Homo sapiens: one gene and its partners. The protein of the gene in region 1 purifies or fractionates together with the protein of each later gene. This does not show direct contact. Each region holds a gene or a part of one and is shown on either strand. Other genes may lie near its edges.

The links.
Region 2: the proteins of ZNF668 (region 1) and CCDC137 purify together in Homo sapiens (affinity purification with mass spectrometry; one large-scale study listed by BioGRID and IntAct). This does not show direct contact.
Region 3: the proteins of ZNF668 (region 1) and RPF1 purify together in Homo sapiens (affinity purification with mass spectrometry; one large-scale study listed by BioGRID and IntAct). This does not show direct contact.

The regions. Positions count from the first base shown.
Region 1 is NC_000016.10:31,064,122-31,067,776, reverse strand, and holds part of ZNF668 (zinc finger protein 668), read left to right. Parts: intron 1-2,747; exon of another isoform or gene 2,748-2,977; intron 2,978-3,091; exon of another isoform or gene 3,092-3,158; coding exon of another isoform or gene 3,159-3,205; intron 3,206-3,295; coding exon of another isoform or gene 3,296-3,317; coding exon 3,318-3,655. UniProt on the Homo sapiens protein: May be involved in transcriptional regulation. May play a role in DNA repair process.
Region 2 is NC_000017.11:81,671,928-81,674,414, forward strand, and holds the end of CCDC137 (coiled-coil domain-containing protein 137), read left to right. Parts: intron 1-148; coding exon 149-228; intron 229-567; coding exon 568-777; 3' UTR 778-1,972; downstream 1,973-2,487.
Region 3 is NC_000001.11:84,485,655-84,489,309, reverse strand, and holds part of RPF1 (ribosome production factor 1), read right to left. Parts: intron 1-3,655.

The DNA of each region.
Region 1 (3,655 bases):
TTACCCATTGTGGGACCATGGGCAAGTCACTTAACTCTTGGAACCTCGATTTATTCCTCTGTAAAGTAGGGACAAGAATCCCTATCTCAGAAAGGTATAAGACATTAAATTAAATAAACCAGCACACCCAGCAATGTGTCTGGCTCTAAGAAGACGCTTTGATAATTGAGGACAGTAATTATTTTTGACTCATTCATTCCTCACCCAACTCTGTCAGGTAAGTACTGTCATTATCTCCATTTTTCAGATTAGAAAACTGAGGTTCTAAGACATGCAGTACATTACACACGGTCACATCAGCTGGGAAGTGATGGAGGCAAAATCTGAAGCCAGACAGTTTGGCTTCAGGGACTGGGCACTTAACAAAATACTGAACCATTTCTCTGGACCTTGGTTCCCTTATCTGTGAAAATGGAATAATAGAACTTTCCTCATGGGGTTGCCATGAAGGGTAACTGAGCTAATACACATAAGGAGTTTAGGATACTGCCTGGTATTTGGCGAGTGCTCAGTAAATGTGAACTATCTTTTTTATCATTTATTTATTTATTTATTTTTGAGATGGGGTCTCACTCTGTTGCCAGGCTGGAGTGCAGTGGCACCATCTTGGCTTACTGCAACCTCAGTCTCCTTAGGCTCAAGCATTTCTCCTACCTCAGCCTTCTGGAGTAGCTGGGAGTACAGGCATGCTCCACCATGCCTGGCTAATTTTTGTATTTTTTGTAGAAATGGGATTTTGCTATATCGCCCAGGCTGGTCTTGAACTCCTGGGCTCAAGGGATCCACCCGCCTTGTCTTGAACTCCTGGGCTCAAGCGATCCACCCGCCTTGGTCTCCCAAAGTGCTAGTGTGAGCCACTGAACCTGGCCCAAGCTATCATTTTTATTAAGGAGGAACATTATCAGGCAGACTCTCCAGAAACCGTCTGGAAGAGGTAGTGAGTACCTCATCCAGAAATAGGGAGGGATCCCTTGGAAACTGTAGGAAGAATTCAAGTCATCAGAAAGGTTAGAATTCAGTCCCTTTAACTTATCTTCAAGCCCCAGGATTGATTATTGATTGATTGATTGATTGAGACAGTGTCTTGCCCTGTCTCCCAGGCTGGAGTGCAGTGGTACAGCCTTGAACTCCTGGGCTCAAGCAGTCCTCCCACCCCAGCCTCTCAAGTAGGCAGTACTACAGGCACATGCCACCACATCTGCTAATTTTTATTTTTAGTAGAGATGGGGTCTCACCAGGTTGCCCAGGCTGGAGCGCAGTGGTACGATCATAGTTCCCTGCAGCCTCGAACCCCTGGGTTCACAGGATCCTCCCGCCTCAGCCTCCCACGTAGCTGGGACTTAAGGCGCATGCCACCACACCTGGCTAAGCCCTAGGATTTAGTGGGAAAAGTGAAATAACCAAGTGAGAATAAGATGGAGTTTTGTGGGATTGGGGCCAAACCCAAAGGGGAGATGCTTGAGGATCCTCCTGGTGGAAGTGGGGCTCCAGTGAAGGACTTGTCAGATTTGGAACAAGCAGGAAGGACCTGGGGATTTGCATGGTGTGGTGGAAGCCATGGAAAGTTCTTGAGCAGGGAACAGGAAACATCATTCATTACTTTTGGGAGAAGACCGGCTGCATGGGGTTGGGGAGGGAGGGCAGCGTGCAGGCCTGAGGCCGGGATTTCAGGCAGAAGGGTGCTGACTTTAAGGATGTGGCCCTTGCCACGCGTCAGGGGCTCCTGTGTCCTCCCTGGGTCAACCAGGTAAGCTGCTTCTCCCGCCCTTTCCTGGCATAAGGGGCCCTGAGTCTCTGTATTTCCCCTAGCACCCTCGTGGCTCAGCTCAGTTTCCTCCTCCTGAACCCCAGTGTCATAACTTAGAAGCCACCAACCCCTAACGTGTCCAGATGAGGAAATAGTCTTTTTATTTTTTTTTTTTTGAGACGGAGTCTTGCTCTGTCGCCCAGGCTGGAGTGCGGTGGCACGATCTTGGCTCACTGCAAGCTCCGCCTCCCAGGTTCACACCATTCTCCTGCCTCAGCCTCCCGAGTAGCTGGGACTACAGGCGCCCGCCACCACGCCCGGCTAATTTTTTTGTATTTTCAGTAGAGACGGGGTTTCACTGTGTTAGCCAGGATGGTCTCGGTCTCCTGACCTCGTGATCCGCCCCCCTCGGCCTCCCAAAGTGCTGGGATTACAGGCGTGAGCCACCACGCCCAGCCGGGCGGAAATAGTCTTATAAACAACACTCATTTCACTGAGGTCTCATAGTAATCCACAGGGCTGCAAGTAGAACGTAGGCCCCCTAGCCTCTGGGCACACCTGGCTCCCTGCAGCCCCCACTCCTCAGACCCCTTCCCCCAGCAGCAGCTGCTGAGCACTCCTTAAGTGGATCTGCCATAATCCTCTTCCCTTCATCCCCCAGGGAGGATGAGCTGGTGTTAAGACTAATACAGCCATTAATCCTGTTTCCTCCCAACCATGATCCCCAGGAGCAGCTGGGTGGAGGGCGTCTGGGTTCTGGACCAGAAAGTAGGGATCTCAGCTAGAGCTGGTATCCCAGGAGGCCATGTTAGATCAGATACATCAGTTATGACTCAGAAAGAGGCTTCCAGCTGCTAGCAATGGCTCAGGCTGCCTTGAGTGATTCTCCATTACCAGAGTTGTGGGAACAGGCCAACAAGATTCCAGAGCAGAGAGTGGACAGATTCCAGTCTGGGGCGGAGGCCCGTACAGCTGTGCAAGGCCAGAATTCTGTGTGAACAGTTGCTGTCTCTGAGGACTAACCATCCAGAGGAGGAAAGAAAACACAAATGCTGGGGACCTGTCACTTCCAGACAGTGCCAGCTACCAGATTTAGCCCATTGGCTCAGCCCTTTTCTGGTCCCAGGTCTGTCTTTTCTGGGCGCTTGGAGACCTTCAGGCCAGGCCCACGTCTGGGTACACTCTTTATCCTGGCATAGTTCTTGGACACTGAGCTGAAGAAGGAAGATGGTGAGACAGATGGAACCTGGGCCTCTGGGAATGCCACAGTGTTTGGAAAAGCCCGTTGGGGGCGGGGGGGGACGTGTAGGTGAATCTTTTGTGACCCTCAGCCTCCTTTCTTAGTGGCTCTGCGGACACTTGGTCCAACTCCTTTCTTCAATGAGCAGATCAGGGAGGAAACGAACGCAGGATGTCAGAGCCAGGAATGCTGGGCAGGAAGGATGTGTGGGTTCCGAGGTGAGAAATGCAGATGAGATAGGGTTCTCTCTGAGGCTTTCAGGAGTGGCGAAGGTATGTGGCTTTGGTCTAACTTTGCTTCTCTTGCAGAGAAACCCCGTTCACCAAGGCCATGGAAGTGGAGGCTGCAGAGGCCCGGTCCCCAGCCCCCGGCTACAAGCGCTCGGGCCGCCGCTACAAGTGCCTGTCCTGTACCAAGACATTTCCAAACGCGCCCAGGGCAGCGCGCCACGCTGCCACACATGGGCCGGCAGACTGCTCTGAAGAGGTGGCCGAGGTGAAGCCAAAGCCAGAGACAGAAGCTAAGGCAGAGGAAGCCAGTGGGGAGAAGGTGTCAGGCTCCGCGGCCAAGCCTAGGCCCTATGCGTGTCCGCTATGCCCCAAGGCCTACAAGACGGCACCCGAGCTGCGCAGCCACGGGCGCAGCCACACGGGGGAGAAGCCCTTTCC
Region 2 (2,487 bases), on another chromosome or scaffold:
TTCCCCTGGGGTCCACAGCCATTAGACCACTGGATGAGTTGGTGTTCTGTCCCAGCCCTATGGGAGGGAGGTGGGCGGGTGGTGGCTCTGGGTGTCAGGGGTGCAGTGGCTGTGGGCAGCAGTCCTCAGTTGTATTCTGCTCCTCCAGACACGGTGAAGTTTGGTGAGGTTGTCCTGCAGCCCCCAGAGCTGACTGCCAGGCCCCAGAGGAGCGTAAGCAAGGACCAGGTAAGTGGGGCACGGGGACAACTTGAGTTTGTCCCCCAGTGCTGCCAGGGAACAGAAGCCTTGGACAGGCTGGACACGGTGGGTCACACCTGTAATCCCAGCACATTGGGAGGCCAAGGCAGGCGGATTGCTTGAGCCCAGGAGTTGATACCAGCCTGGACAACATAGCGAGATCCTGTGTCAAGAAAAAAAAAAACCCTCAGCCAACGTGTGCGCTGTCTGGTGTGTGGCCTGAGAGTGCAGTGTTCTCGCTGGCGGGAGAGCTGTTGAAGCTGTGAGGCTTTCTGTTGCATCCCCTCCTTTCCCAGCCTGTGCCTCACCCTCCCCTCTCTCCCTCAGCCTGGCAGGAGATCGCAGATGCTGCGGATGCTTCTGAGCCCCGGTGGTGTGTCCCAGCCTCTGACCGCCTCCCTGGCCCGCCAGCGGATTGTGGAGGAGGAGAGAGAGCGGGCCGTGCAGGCCTACAGAGCGTTGAAGCAGCGGCAGCAGCAGCTGCACGGGGAGCGACCCCACCTCACTTCCCGGAAGAAGCCAGAGCCGCAGCTGTGATGGAGAGACACCCGGGGCCTGGCCACGCTCTGGGGCAACTGGCACCAGGAGCTGCTACACCTGGGTAGGAGAGAGGCAGGCCATGCCAGCAGTGTGGGGTGAGGCCTCCAGCTACTTGTTCACACGTTGGGCACTAGTGGGTCCACATCTTGCAGGGGGTGAGTGCCCGATGGACTAGGGCCAAGGCCTGGTTGACAGACGGCCCGTGGGGCCCGGTGTCACTCACAGCTCCATCTCTTTGTTTTGAACGTCCATTCTGAGTCTCAGCCCAGGTGGACCTTAGGAAGGGCTGGATCCCTGTCCCTGAACACCAAATACCGAGACAGCTGATGAGGCTGGCTCAGTGTGTGACGGAGGCCCCCGGGAGTCAGCAGAGCCGAGCGTACAGTGCACATCAGGCAGAGCAGGCCACGGGCAGGGACGACGCATCGGGACAGGGCTCTGCAGGGGACCGTGACTACAGGCCAGCTGTGAGTGGTCCCCTACAGAGGCTGCCCACCCAAGGTTTGGTTGGGGTGAAACATGATGACAACACATACACTTAAGAAGGTGGGAACCGGGGGCCGGGCGCGGTGGCTCACACCTGTAATGCCAGCACTTTGGGCAGCTGAGGCGAGTGGATCACCTGAGGTCAGGAGTTCGAACCAGCCTGGCCAACATGGTGAAACTGCATCTCTACTAAAAATACACGAAGAAAAAAAAAACAGTGGGAACAGAGTTGTCACCTACCTAACAGGGCTCTGAGAGAGCCGGGAGGCCCAAAGTGGCTGGAAGAAGGTAAAGGAAAAATCCTGTCTTGGGCTCAAGGTCACAGAGTGGGGCCCAGGGGGAGTTCCTGCTGAGGGCAGGGCCTTGCCAGGCTTCAGTCTCCAGTGCCAAAGGAGGAAATGCCCAGGCTGTCAGCATTTCCAGATGAGAGCAGAAGGGAGAAGCTTAAACCCAAGTCACACATCCAGCAATGGAGTCCGACAGCCCAGCACCATCTGGGAACTGAGAAGCACCTCTGCCCGGCCCCCACACCGTGTGGAAAGTGAGGAGCACCTCTGCCTGGCCGCCACCCCGTCTGGCAAGTGAGGAGCGCCTCTGCCCGGCCGCTGTGCAACCTTCCAAGTGTGAAGTGACAGCCTTGTGTGTGATGTTTTCTGCCTTCCCCAAGTTTGCACTTTCGACATTAAAGTTTACTTTTTAGTTAAAAGTTTTAAATTGGAGAATATATATTTAAAGTCAGGGCTGTTTTCCTCTTATGGGCATGTTTCCCACCTTGTGATGGACCTGGCGGCCCCAGCCCTCGCGTTGGGATGTTGTTTTTGCAGCAGCCAGAACTCAGCCCCAGATCACAAGCAGCAGCTGGAAGGGGGTGGCCTTTCCCTGGGAAAGGGCTGGGACGGCAGCGGGTGGCACTCCCACTCGCTCAATGCCTTTGGTTTTGGGTGTCAGATCGGCCCGTGTATGGCTAAGCAAAGGGATCCCACAGGGCTGGGAAAGCGCTCATGCTCTCCACTGCATCCATGATTCTCAGGTTTTAGCTGCTGGAAGGGAAACCCCTGGTGGTTTTTAGGGCCTCTTTGTTGCCCAGGCTGGGGTGCAGTGGCATAAGCACACTGCAGCAAGTTGTTGGGCTCAGGCAATCCTCCCACCTCAGCCTCCCAAGTACTTGGGACAACAGGTGCTCACCAACACACCCAAATAATTTTTTGTGCTTTTTGTATA
Region 3 (3,655 bases), on another chromosome or scaffold:
AAACAAACAAAAAAAGAACCAAAAAAAACTAATGAAATTACGAGAAGACAAATCTTCCATTGAGAGACACTCAGATTTAAACATTAATGAAAGTAGTACCTTTTAAAATTTGTGGAATATACCAAAAGTGGTAGTCTGAAAGAGTTTTATGGCTATACCTGCTCATATTAGAAAAAATATATATTGAGCAAATCAATAAATACAGAATAAACTCAAAGGAAGCAGAAGAAAATAATAAAGATAAAAGGAGATATAAATGAATTAGAAAACAAAGATTCAACAGGATCAAAGAAGAAAGTACTCAGAAAAGACTAAGAGAATAGATATCTTGGTAAAAACTGATTTAAAAAAGAGAAAAAGCCAAAATAAAATAATATTAGGAACGAAAAGTGGACATTACTGTAGTCTCACTCATGAACACAGATATAATTAATTCTAAGCAAAGAATTAATAAATCCAATTTGGTTATGATGTTTAATGCAGTAAGAGAAAAGCCACATAATCACCTCAATATTTGCAAAGAAAACATCTAATAACATTCTACATTCATTCATGACAAACAAAACAAAACAAAATCATAAGAATAAGTAAAATTTACTTAACCCTTAACTCATAATAATCTATCTCTAGTGACACAAATATTAATGTTGACTCATTGGAAGTATTCTTTTGAAAATCAGGAACGTGGCAAAGATGGCACTGTTGATTTTTCTATTTATTTGACATTAGGCTAGAAGTTCTAGAAGGCACAAAAATGGGAGAAAAATGGGTCAAAATAAGAAAACTGTCATTTGCAGAAATGGTTATCTAAACAGAAAAATGAAAACGATATCCCAACAAATTAGAAATGAATTTAGGTAGGCTACTGGTTAGAACATCACTATTCAAAAATCCATTGCATTTTTATAAATTGGCTAACAAAACAATTTTCAAAGACATGCAGTTTACACCAACAAAAACTGTAAGATATCCAGGAATAGCTCTAGCAAGATTTATGTGTCAACTTCCATGAAGAGAATTACGAAATACATGAAATACATTTCACTATTTAAAGGAGACCTAAGTAAATATATATTATATACATACATACGTATCCCCAAATTGATCTGATTTAGTGCCATTTATAATTTATATGGAGGAGCAAAGGCCTAGGAAAAGCCAAAACACATCTGAAGAGAGGGGATTTAGGGGCAGGAGTGAAAGAAGCATTTTGCCCTTATAGATATGAAGCCTTATTATGAAGCTAAATAATTAACTAATGATGCAGTGACAAACTGACGAAGCAAATAGCCCAGAAAAAGACCAAGCATATATAGATATTTGATATATATCATGGCATTACAATTCATTGTGGGGAAAGGCTGCACTACTCCAAAAATATAACTACTGGTTATATATAACCAGTACTGGATAAACTGGTTATATATAAATGAACTGTTAAGAAGTAGAACACAGAATTGTAAGAGTACATTAAAACTAATTCAAAATATATATATGCAAAAGGACAGGTTGGGGAGACAGGAAGGAAAGTAACTGGTTTCCATTCTCACACCAAACAGAAAACAATTCCTGACAATCAAGCAAATAAATACGAGAGGCAACTCTTTAATTATTTTAGAAGGAAAGAAGAACTTATGATCACAGGAAAGAGAAAAGTTTCTTAAATATTACATAAAAAGCTTTAAGTGCTAATTTTTCAAAAACTCAACTACATCAAGAACTTCTGGTCCTGGTCCTCAAAAGACACCATAGAAAATAAAAAGAGAATTCATGAATTGGAAGATTTCTTTAATATGTATGAAGAATTGGTATCCAAATTATATAGAGAAGTTCCACAAATGCGTAAAATATACTACATGATAGAAAACTGGGCAAAAGACATGAACTGGCTTATCTCTAAAGAAAACAACTTATATTAAATGATGCTCAACATTAGAAAACAAGGAAATACAAATTCAAACCACAATGAGACAGCCTTTTATCATTAGTCTGAACATACCATGAGTTGGTTAGAATGTGGATGAGCAGGAACACTACTCTTGTACCACAAAAGTATAAAATGATACAACCACTACTTTGAAAAATATTTTGGTACAATTATGTAAAGTTAAACATTTACACATTCCATGACTCAAAATTATCCTACTGTAGGTAAACATTCTAGGGAAACCTTTATGTACACACACCCTTGATATGCCTGTTACCCCCAAATTTATCTCAAGACCTCTTTCCTGAATTCCAAGCTCACATCCCAACTACCTGCTTGACATCTCTTCTAAAAACTCTTGAGTCATCTCAAACATAATATATGCAAAACTGAACTCTTGATTTCCCCTTAAATCTCCTTCACTCAGTCTTCCACATCTAGTCAATGACCATTTCATCCTTCTAATTTGCTCAGTCTAAAACCTTAATACCATCTCTGAATCCTCTATTTATCTCATATTCTGCATCCAATTTGTCAGGAAATTGAAGCAGCTCTGATTTCAAAATATACCCAGGGGAAAAAATATTTAGAATCAGATCAATTCTCACCACTTTCATTGTAACTACCCTGGCCCAGGTCATGATGAAAGCCCATCATTTCTTTCCTGGATTTGTTTAGTAGCTTCCTTTCTCTACTTACCTCTCCAGCTACATTCTCAGTAAAGCAGCCAACTACTTCTAAAAATTAAGTCTGATCACATCATTTTCCTATTCTTTTTTTTTTTTTTTTTTTTTTGAGACGGAGTCTCGCTCTGTCGCCCATGCTGGAGTGCAGTGGCGCGATCTCGGCTCACTGCAAGCTCCGCCTCCCGGGTTCACGCCATTCTCCTGCTTCAGCCTCCCGAGTAGCTGGGACTACAGGTGCCCGCCACCACACCTGGCTAATTTTTTTGTATTTTTAGTAGAGATGGGGTTTCACCACGTTAGCCAGGATGGTCTCAATCTCCTAACTTCGTGATCCACCCGTCTCGGCCTCCCAAAGTGCTGGGATTACAGGCGTGAGCTACTGTGCCCGGCCACGTCATTCTTCTATTCTAACCCACCCAGTGGCTCTTCATTTCACTAAGTATAAAACCAAAGTCCTCATACCGGCCAACAAAGTCACTGATCTGGTCTTTCTTCTTCATCATACTTTCCTAGGACCTCTTCTACAATTCTCTCCCTTGCTTGATTTCAGTCACAATGGCCTCCTTGTTATTCTTAAAAAGCATATTCGATACACTCCTGCCTTGGAGCTTGTGCACTGGGTGTTCTCTCATTCTGGGGCTCTTTTTGCCCAAAGATGGCTAATTTCCTCACATCCTTCAAGTCTTTGCTAAAAGGTCAATTTCTCAATAAAGCCTACCCTGACTTTCCTATATAAAATCACTACCCAGTAGACAAATGGGCAAGAGACACAATCAATCAATCAAGGGGAAAAAAATATGAAAAGATGTTCAACCTCATTCAAAATGAGAACTGCAAATTAAAACTACAGTGATATACAATTTCTCACTTATCAAACTGGAAAAAATGATTTACAATGAGTGTTAAGTTGAGGAGTAACATTCAAGTTATCTCCTCCCCAAATACTTACTAATTATCATACAAAGGGAAAAACAGTAAATTCAGAGTGGAGAAACCTGGCAGGCACCACCTTAACCAAGTGATCAAGGTAAACATAACCAGT